2 linked regions of the Homo sapiens genome follow. The protein of the gene in region 1 purifies or fractionates together with the protein of each later gene. This does not show direct contact. Each region holds a gene or a part of one and is shown on either strand. Other genes may lie near its edges.

What was found. Proteins that work in one complex are often made in the same cells at the same time.
Region 2: the proteins of ANKRD34C (region 1) and NIPSNAP1 fractionate together in Homo sapiens (co-fractionation; one large-scale study listed by BioGRID). This does not show direct contact.

The regions. Positions count from the first base shown.
Region 1 is NC_000015.10:79,294,839-79,299,875, forward strand, and holds the end of ANKRD34C (ankyrin repeat domain-containing protein 34C), read left to right. Parts: coding exon 1-54; 3' UTR 55-3,401; downstream 3,402-5,037.
Region 2 is NC_000022.11:29,571,114-29,574,613, reverse strand, and holds part of NIPSNAP1 (protein NipSnap homolog 1), read left to right. Parts: intron 1-3,500.

The sequences.
Region 1 (5,037 bases):
ATGCAAATTGAACAAATGAAACAGCTGTCTGATTTTGAAGAAATCATGACCTAGAAGCTTTAGAAAGGCTTAAAATAGTCAATATAGTTTATGGAAGGGACTATGGATGAGACTGCTTCCTGATCATTCCTTAATGTTGAACTGTGGCCACTTCAGAAGATATAAAAGCAGGATGCTGCTTCACTTCTGAGAATAATCCCTGGGTTTTTATAGGCCTACTTGAAAAGAGCTCAGGATAATTGGGTTTTGAAGATAAATTTTTAAAAATTCTGCAAAGGAAGAAAGCCTTTGGAATTTGAAGGTAACACAGCAAGTACAATGATGTAAGCTGGGGACATCAGTAGTTTTCTATCAGACAAACAGAAAAGAATTTAAATCAGGAGGTAGTATTTGGAGTATGTCATTTGTAATAAATCTATAAAGTGCCTACATAGAAAACGAGGCTTTAACATTTGTTAGAATGTACAAAAGCCCCAAACCAAACCCTCAGTGACTAAATCTGGGTGTCTGGGTTCTATCTGATGGAGTAGAAGCAGAATTCCCCCCATGGAAGAGGCTCTGGCCTGTGGGTCCTGGCTCTGACTCTGTCAGGGCACTGTAAATCATGGTGTGGTTGAACTCGTTCAGTAATCCAGTAATATATTTTGTTCACATACTAATTTGTATGTGCTCTGAGTACCCAAATATCCCATCTATGTGGCCCCTGAATTATGATATGTCATAGTAGCTGATGCCTTAGAGATAAATCTTGCTCCAGAAATGAAACTTTCCCCAGACCCGTCCCCTGACACAGGCTCTTGTATTGAAATCTTGTGAAAAACAGTCAAGGTTAACTAACTTGGAGTTGAATGTGATACAATTATAGATTAAAAATATCAGAAGCATTTCCAGATTATTCTTAAAAGTTGATGAGATCTTCCCAAACCAGAATGACAACTGAGGATGAGATGTGCATAGATTAAATGGTAAAGTGGGTGGTTCTCAGGTGAGAAGCAGTGAGGACCATTCATTTTGCAGCCTAAAAATTTTAGGGGATGCAAACTGTCATTTCCCCTTCAGTTATGTAAATAATTGAAGAAAAATCTGGTTTCTTCTCTTCCTGATCTATCTAGGTGAGAAGAGATTTGTAGAAATAACCTGCACAACCCTTTTAGGCTGCTTTGAGCAAATCCAAGAAGGAAAGCAGAGACTTAGCACATTTGGTATAATGTAGCCACATCTTAGATGAATATATTTTTGGTTATTTCCATTTATGTTTCCTCTCGTGCTGCTGAGATCTATTTGCTCTATGGTTAAAAAGTTCAATAGTTCCTGAGGACAGCATCATATAGAGGAAAGAGGGCTTTGAGTCTGACATATTTGGGTTTGCATACCAGTCTTATCATTTACCAGCTGCGTGACCTTGAGGAGGCAGCTTAACTTCTCTTAGTCTCTGTTCCCTCATCTGTAAAATAGGATTAGTAGTGCTGCACCTTACAAGGTTGTGATGAGAATTAAATGACACAATGTATGAAAGTGCTGCCATTGTGCCTGGCACAGGTAGAAGTCACTGGATAAGAAGTAGCTAATTTTAATGTATTTCTTGAGACTGCTGAAGCAATATCTCAAATAATACATACGCTACACAAAATGGAATAAAGTTTCTCTGGAAAAGTTCAAGTATCTCTATGAGATCCCCAGTTATTTTTATAAGTACCGATCTCTAAACTCATGTGTAAAGTAAAAAATTCTGCCATATAAACTCTACATATTATATAATTTTTCTATAACTACCTTTGCTAGAAATTTATCTGAATATTCCAAACAAAAGTGTTAATGATGGTTAAACAAAAAAACTCGGTGTTGTTTGGAGGGCTGTCTGTCCTGTGTGTTGTAGGATGTTTAGCAGCATCTCTGGCCTCCACTCACTAGATGGCAGTAACACCCTCTCCCCAGTTGTGACAACCAAAAATGTCTCTAGACGTGGCCAGATGTCTCCTGGGTGCATCACCTTCGTTGATCTCTACTGCTAGACCTATCGTATATGTCAAGAACAACAAAGCTGTATGGAAATGTGAGTGCTGACTGGACAGCTATGCCCTCCTGTTAACTTAAGACAATTCAAATTGTGCTTTAGTAAGAGGACTAATCAATACTAGTGTTGGGCCTTCAGGATTCTTGGCAAACACACTCCAACATGTGTGCTAATGGTCTCATACTTTGTAGGAAGGGAAGAAAATAAGGAAAGCACATAAACTAGCAAAAATCTATAGCTCATGAACTTGGTTTAGTGTGGACAACCCTGTTCTTTTCAGAACTATTTAATCATTAATAGTTCTTACCAAGTAGAAGTGATCCCAGGCAAAGAAACAACTTTCCAATGCATTCAAGAGAGAATCATACGGACAACCATCATTCTCAGCAGCTCATTAAATGCAAATACACACACGCAAAGAGAGAGAGAGAACACATTTTACATAGTTTTCCAGCTGTTGTTAGTGTCACTTAAAACTGATCTCTGCTGGTAGTATTCAGTTGTGAGTATAGCAAGACACTGCATAGGAGCATTTTTTTTCTAAACCTTTAGCTAAGATTTGGAAACCCAATATTTCCTAAGTAGTGAATGTGGTCTATTTATAGTAATTAGCTTAGGTGACACACCAAACATGATGAGTTGCTCATTCAGGATAGCCGGTCCATTGCACAAATGTGTAATATCAGGTACTCTCATGCCACTCATTGCCTGCATCAGTCAGTCATGACCTTTGCATCAGCCTTTCAATAGACAGTCATCAGGCTAGTATCTTATCTCATCACTACTTGACGATGAGTTCGCCGAATTAGACTGTTCTATACCAGTACAACAACCAAAATACTTTCTCATAGATTATGCATAAATACGCAATTTTGTCCATGTCAATGAACCTAACAAGAATGCTTTTTAAAAGTATATTTTAGATTCAAACATGCTTTCTAGATCAGAGGTTAACTTGTCTTTTTGAAATCCTGGAGTCACTTATAAGTTAGCTGCAAACTGTAGTTTCGGTAATTCAACTGCTTAAGCATTTCTGGACTGTTTATCAAAATATATTACAGAATGTGAGACTAAAGTTTAAAGTCTGGACCTTTGGTTTAATTTCTAGACTTTCCAAAGCTTTTTTTTTTCTTTTTAAAAAGCCCATTGTCAACTCTCTTAGAACTTCATCAAGTAAATGGTACCTTGCAAATGTAGGTTGTGTCTGACCTTCTTTCTTTTTGTGTGTTGGTGCCTCAGATGTATCATGTGCTGCTTGAACTGATTCTCTACAGTGTTCCTTCCTAGTCTCAAGCTGATGATGTGCTCAAAGATGTATCAAAATCCATGTAATGACACCTTTTAGATGTTTCTAATATGTCAATAAATGATATATTGCAATCCTTCAGTAGTATTTTCCACTTTTTCTCAGTGAAATCTCAATTATAAGTATTACCTTTTCCTTAAGATGAATTGACGTGACTGCCTAGTAACATCAACCACACACCCAATATTTTAGGAACACATAATTTACAAAATTAGATTTTAATCACACAAGTATTATGGTATCTTTCCTGGTTAAAAAAAGAGCACAGCCCAATGAATGAGAAGGTGCATTGCCACTCTGAGGGGTGAGTTTCTTTACTTGGCCCCTGCTGCTCAACCGCCCCAGGGCTGCACCTGCCATCTGCTAATGGCAAGGACTTATCGTCAGTGGATATCCCTCCTTGGGCCCTATTTCTAATGTTCATAAGTGTTAATGTAAGCTGATTTCCATGAGCTCTTATTCAAGGGCAGGACAGCGAGTATAAAGTGAATTAGCTCAACAGTCTCTGTGGTCTCTTAAATTCTTGTACTCTGTACTTCAAATTTTATTCAGACTCGCTGATTCTCTGGACTGTTCCAATCCAGAACAGGTACTCTGGAGATTACCCTTAGGTTAGCTCCTAGACTACTGAAATAAACTAAGTTAAGTAAAAAAAGGGACTAGTTTTAGGATGTTTGTTCCCCTACTTCTAACTTTAGGCAAGAGACCCATATTGTTTCTAGATCCTTTGAGGAGAGATTATGAGGCACTGAACAGTCTAATTCAGATTATGCCCAAGATTGAATGCACTCCCTCCTCCAAGGTCAGCCACTTTGACCTTGTCACTCATTCTTTCTCAAGTATCTCCTTGAGATCCCCAGTTATTTTTATAAATATTGATCTCTAAACTCATTTGTAAAGTAAACAGTTCTGTCACATAAGCTCTACATATTATACCATTTCTATAATTACAATTGCTAGAAATTTATCTGAATATTCCAAACAAAAGTATTGATGATCAAACAAAACAAACTTGGAGTTGTCTGTCTAAAGGCTTAGAAGTTTGGGGTTTTTTGAGTGGAACTTGCTCCTTTTCAGAGGAAAACCTTAGAGAGGAGTGGCATATGGTGCATCTTCCTAGGCAGGGCTGTGTTAAGCATGGCAGGAAGGCATCTGAGTCACCTGCCTTGAAGAAACCCTGCTGCTTGGATAATGAACACATCAGCATGGTTATTAATGAGCATGAAGATCAACGGGCTCCCTGAAATTGAATGCTATGAACTGTTGAAGACTTCCACAGAACAGAGCGGGGAGAGGTCCACGATGACTGAGATGACTTTCTTGTCATCTTTGTTAGAAGGAGATGAACCTAGGATCAATTTTACTTTTACTAAGGAAAACTAAAAAAGTTGGGTATTTCTACATCCAAAGGTAATATACAGCGAAATTCATAGCATTCCGTGTCTTCTAGTCTGAGTTACAAAATGGCATGCGCATAGTGGGAAGGACAGGATCTGCCTCACATAATTTGCCTGGCAATGAATGCTAAAAATAGGGAATGGGCCTCAGGAAATCAAAAGAGGCCAGTGTTTTATAGCTATAACAATATCTGATTACTGCAACACAGGAAAATAGTCTGACAATTCTCACCCAGACTTCTAAACTAAAAGCGATTCTGTGGTCCATTCTAGCAGAGATTGTGCAAGGGTACCTTTTGAAATCATAGTACAAAAATCTA
Region 2 (3,500 bases), on another chromosome or scaffold:
AGAGACTGAGTTTCACCATGTTGGCCAGGCTAGCCTCAAACTCCTGACCTCAGGCAATCCGCCCGCCTCGGCCTCCCAAAGTGCTGGGATTACAGGCATGAGCCACCGCACCAGGCTGATAATTGTCTTTTTGCTAATGAAGCAGATGCATGTACAATGATCGAGAGAGTTCATGAATTCAGAAATGCTTAACACACTTTAAAATCTTTATAAAAAATTACAATGAATAAAGAAAAATTTAGCCATCTCCTATTCCTCTTTCCCAGGTAAGCAGTATTAACAGTTTGGGACAAGTAATTTATTTTCTTTTCTTTTTCTTTCTTTTTTTTTTTTTTTTTTTTTTTTTTTTTTTGTGAAGATGGAGTCTCACTCTGTCATCCAGGCTGGCGTGCAGTGGCGTGATCTTGGCTCACTGCAGCCTCCGCCTCCTGGATTCAAGCAGTTCTGCCTCAGTCTCTCGAGTAGCTGGGACTACAGGCACACATCACCACTCCTGGCTAATATTTTGTATCTTTTTTTAAGTGGAAATGGGGTTTTGCCATGTTGCCCAGGCTAGTCGTGAACTCCTGAGCTCCAGCAATCTGCCCGCCTCAGCCTCCCAAAATGCTAGGATTACAGGCATGAGCCACCATGCCCAGCCTCTTTTTTTGTTTTGTTTTGTTTTGTTTTGTTTTTTGAGACAGGGTCTGCTCTGTTGCCCAGGCTGGAGTGCAGTGGCCCGATCTCAGCTTGCTGCAACCTACGCCTCCTGGGTTCAAGCGATCTTCCCACCTCAGCCTCCTGAGTAGCTGGGACTACAGGCGCACTTGACACTCGACCACACCTGGCTAATTTTTTTTTTTTTTGAGACAGAGTTTCACTCTTGTTGCCCAGGCTGGAGTGCAATGGCCTGATCTCGGCTTACTACAACCTCCACCTCCTGGGTTCAAGCAATTCTCCTGCCCCAGCCTCCTGAGTAGCTGGGATTACAGGCATGCACCACCACGCCTGGCTAATTTTGTATTTTTAGTAGAGATGGGGTTTCTCCATGTTGGTCAGGCTGGTCTCAAACTCCCGACCTCAGGTAATCCACCCGCCTTGGCCTCCTAAAGTGTTGGGATTACAGGCGTGAGCCACCGTACCCAGCAATTTTTTTATTTATTGCAGAGACAGGGCTTCAGACTCCTGAGCTCAAGTGATCCGCCTGCCTCGGCCTCCCAGAGTGCTGGAATTATAGGCGTGAGCCACCATGCCCGGCCCATTTCTCATTTTTATGCTTATACAAACATATCACCACTTTGGCCCAGCGCAGTGGCTCATGCTTGTAATCCTAGCACTTTGAGAGGCCGAGGCAGGTGGATCATGAGGTCGAGAGATCGAGACCATCCTGGCCAACATAGTAAAACCCCGTCTCTACTAAAAATACAAAAATTAGCTGGGCGTGGTGGCACACGTCTGTAGTCCCAGCTACTTGGGAGGCTGAGGCAGGAGAATCACTTGAACCCGGGAGGTGGAGGTTGCAGTGAGTGGAGATCATACCACTTTACTCCAGCCTGGCGACAGAGCAAGACTCCATCTCAAATACAAACAAATGAACAAAACAAAACAAACATATCACCACTTTAAGATTATTTTTAAAAAGAAATTTTTTTTTTTTTTGAGACATGGTCTCTGTCACCCAGGCTGGAGTGCAGTGGCCTGATCATAGTTCATTGTAGCCTTGATTTCCTGGGCTTCATGCGATCCTCCTAAGTCTCTCAAGTGGCTGAGACTACAGGCATGTGTCACCACACCCGGCTAATTATTGTATTTTATTTTATTTTATTTTATTTTTTTGAGATAGAGTCTCACTCTGTTGCCCAAGCTGGAGTACAGTGGCAAGATCTTGGCTCACTGCAGCCTCAACCTCCCAGGCTCAAGTGATCCTACCACCTCAGCCTCCCAAGTAGTGGGACTACAGGCACATACCGTCATGCCCAGCTAATTTTATTTTTTGTAGAGACACGGTCTCACAAGTTTCCCCAGGCTTGTCTCATGGCCTCAAGCAATCCTCCTGCCTCAGCCTCCCAAAGTGCTGGGATTACAGGCATAAGCCAGTCATATTTATTATTTTTTTTGTAGAGATGGAGTCTCATTTTGTTGCCCAGGCTGATCTTGAACTCCTGGGCTCAAGTGATCCTCTGACCTCAGCCTCCCAAAGTACTGGGATTACAGGCATTTAGCCATCGTGCCCAGCTGATTTTATCCGTCCCAATGGCTGCTCCATATTTTGGAAAAAATTGATTGATTTTTTATTTGCAAGACATTTGTCCTTTTTTTTTTTTTTTTTTTTGAGATGGATTCTCGCTCTGTTGCCCAGGCGGGAGTGTGATGGTGCGATCTTGGCTCACTGCAACCTCTGCCTCTCAGGTTCAAGCAATTCTCCTGCCTCATGCTCCTGAGTAGCTGGGATTACAGGTGCACACCACCACGCCTGGCTGATTTTTGTATTTTTAGTAGAGACAGGGTTTCGCCATGCTGGGCAGGCTGGTCTCGAACTCCTGACCTCAGGTGATCTGCCTGCCTTGGCCTCCCAAAGTGCTGGGATTGCAGGCGTGAGCCATCACACCCAGCCTAAGACATTTGTCTAACCACATAAAAGTCTTAAAAAGGGATAGGGCAGCCGAGTATTTGTATTGTAAAAATACGAAAATTACCTGGATGTGGTGGTACGCGCCTGTAATCTCAGCTACTCAGGAGGCTGAGGCAGGAAAATTGCTTGAACCCGGGAGGCCGAGGTTGCAGTGAGCCGAGATCGCACCACTGCACTCCAGCCTGAGCAACAAGAGCAAGACTCTGTCTCAAAAAAAAAGAAAAGAAAAAAAGAAAAGAAAGGATAGGGCTTCCTGTGACCTCACTTGGAAAAAACAAAAGAGAAAAAAGAAAAAAGGGATAAGGCTTGCTGCCACTCAGGGATCCCTCTTGCCAGGCTCCCTGGCTAGGAATTGTCTCCATTGGGAGACTTCCTTTTCAGGCCTGGCTGCAAGCTGCACCAAGGCTGTGGAGCGGGAAGATTGGTAGTCTCAAAATAAGCACCCCTGCCTCCTGCTGGGACCTTGGGTATGTGTTTAGGATGGGAGTGCAGTTCTGGTCCAGTAGGAGCTGGCAGCAGACCCTCCACTGCCCTTAACCACAGTGCTCATGGGCAAAGCACATAATCATATTCATTGATCATTCATTCATTCATTCTCAGTATCCTATGGAGATGGGCAGAGCAGGTGTTGGCTGGATGAGTGAATGCATCTTGCTTTGCAGTGCCTTTTACTCCCTCTATCTGCCAAACCAGTCCTGGGGACTGACCAGCTCATCTCCTCCTCTGTAGAGAGTCTGCCCAGGTTGCCAGAAGCAGAGTTAAGGCTAGTTCACCTGGGCTCTTCCAGAGACCCCTCCTATAATTGTGTCCCAAGGCCCATTTCTCCTAGTGGACTATGAGCTCCTCAAGGACAAAGCTTATTTGTATTTGGCTTTCCATGTGTGGGGTC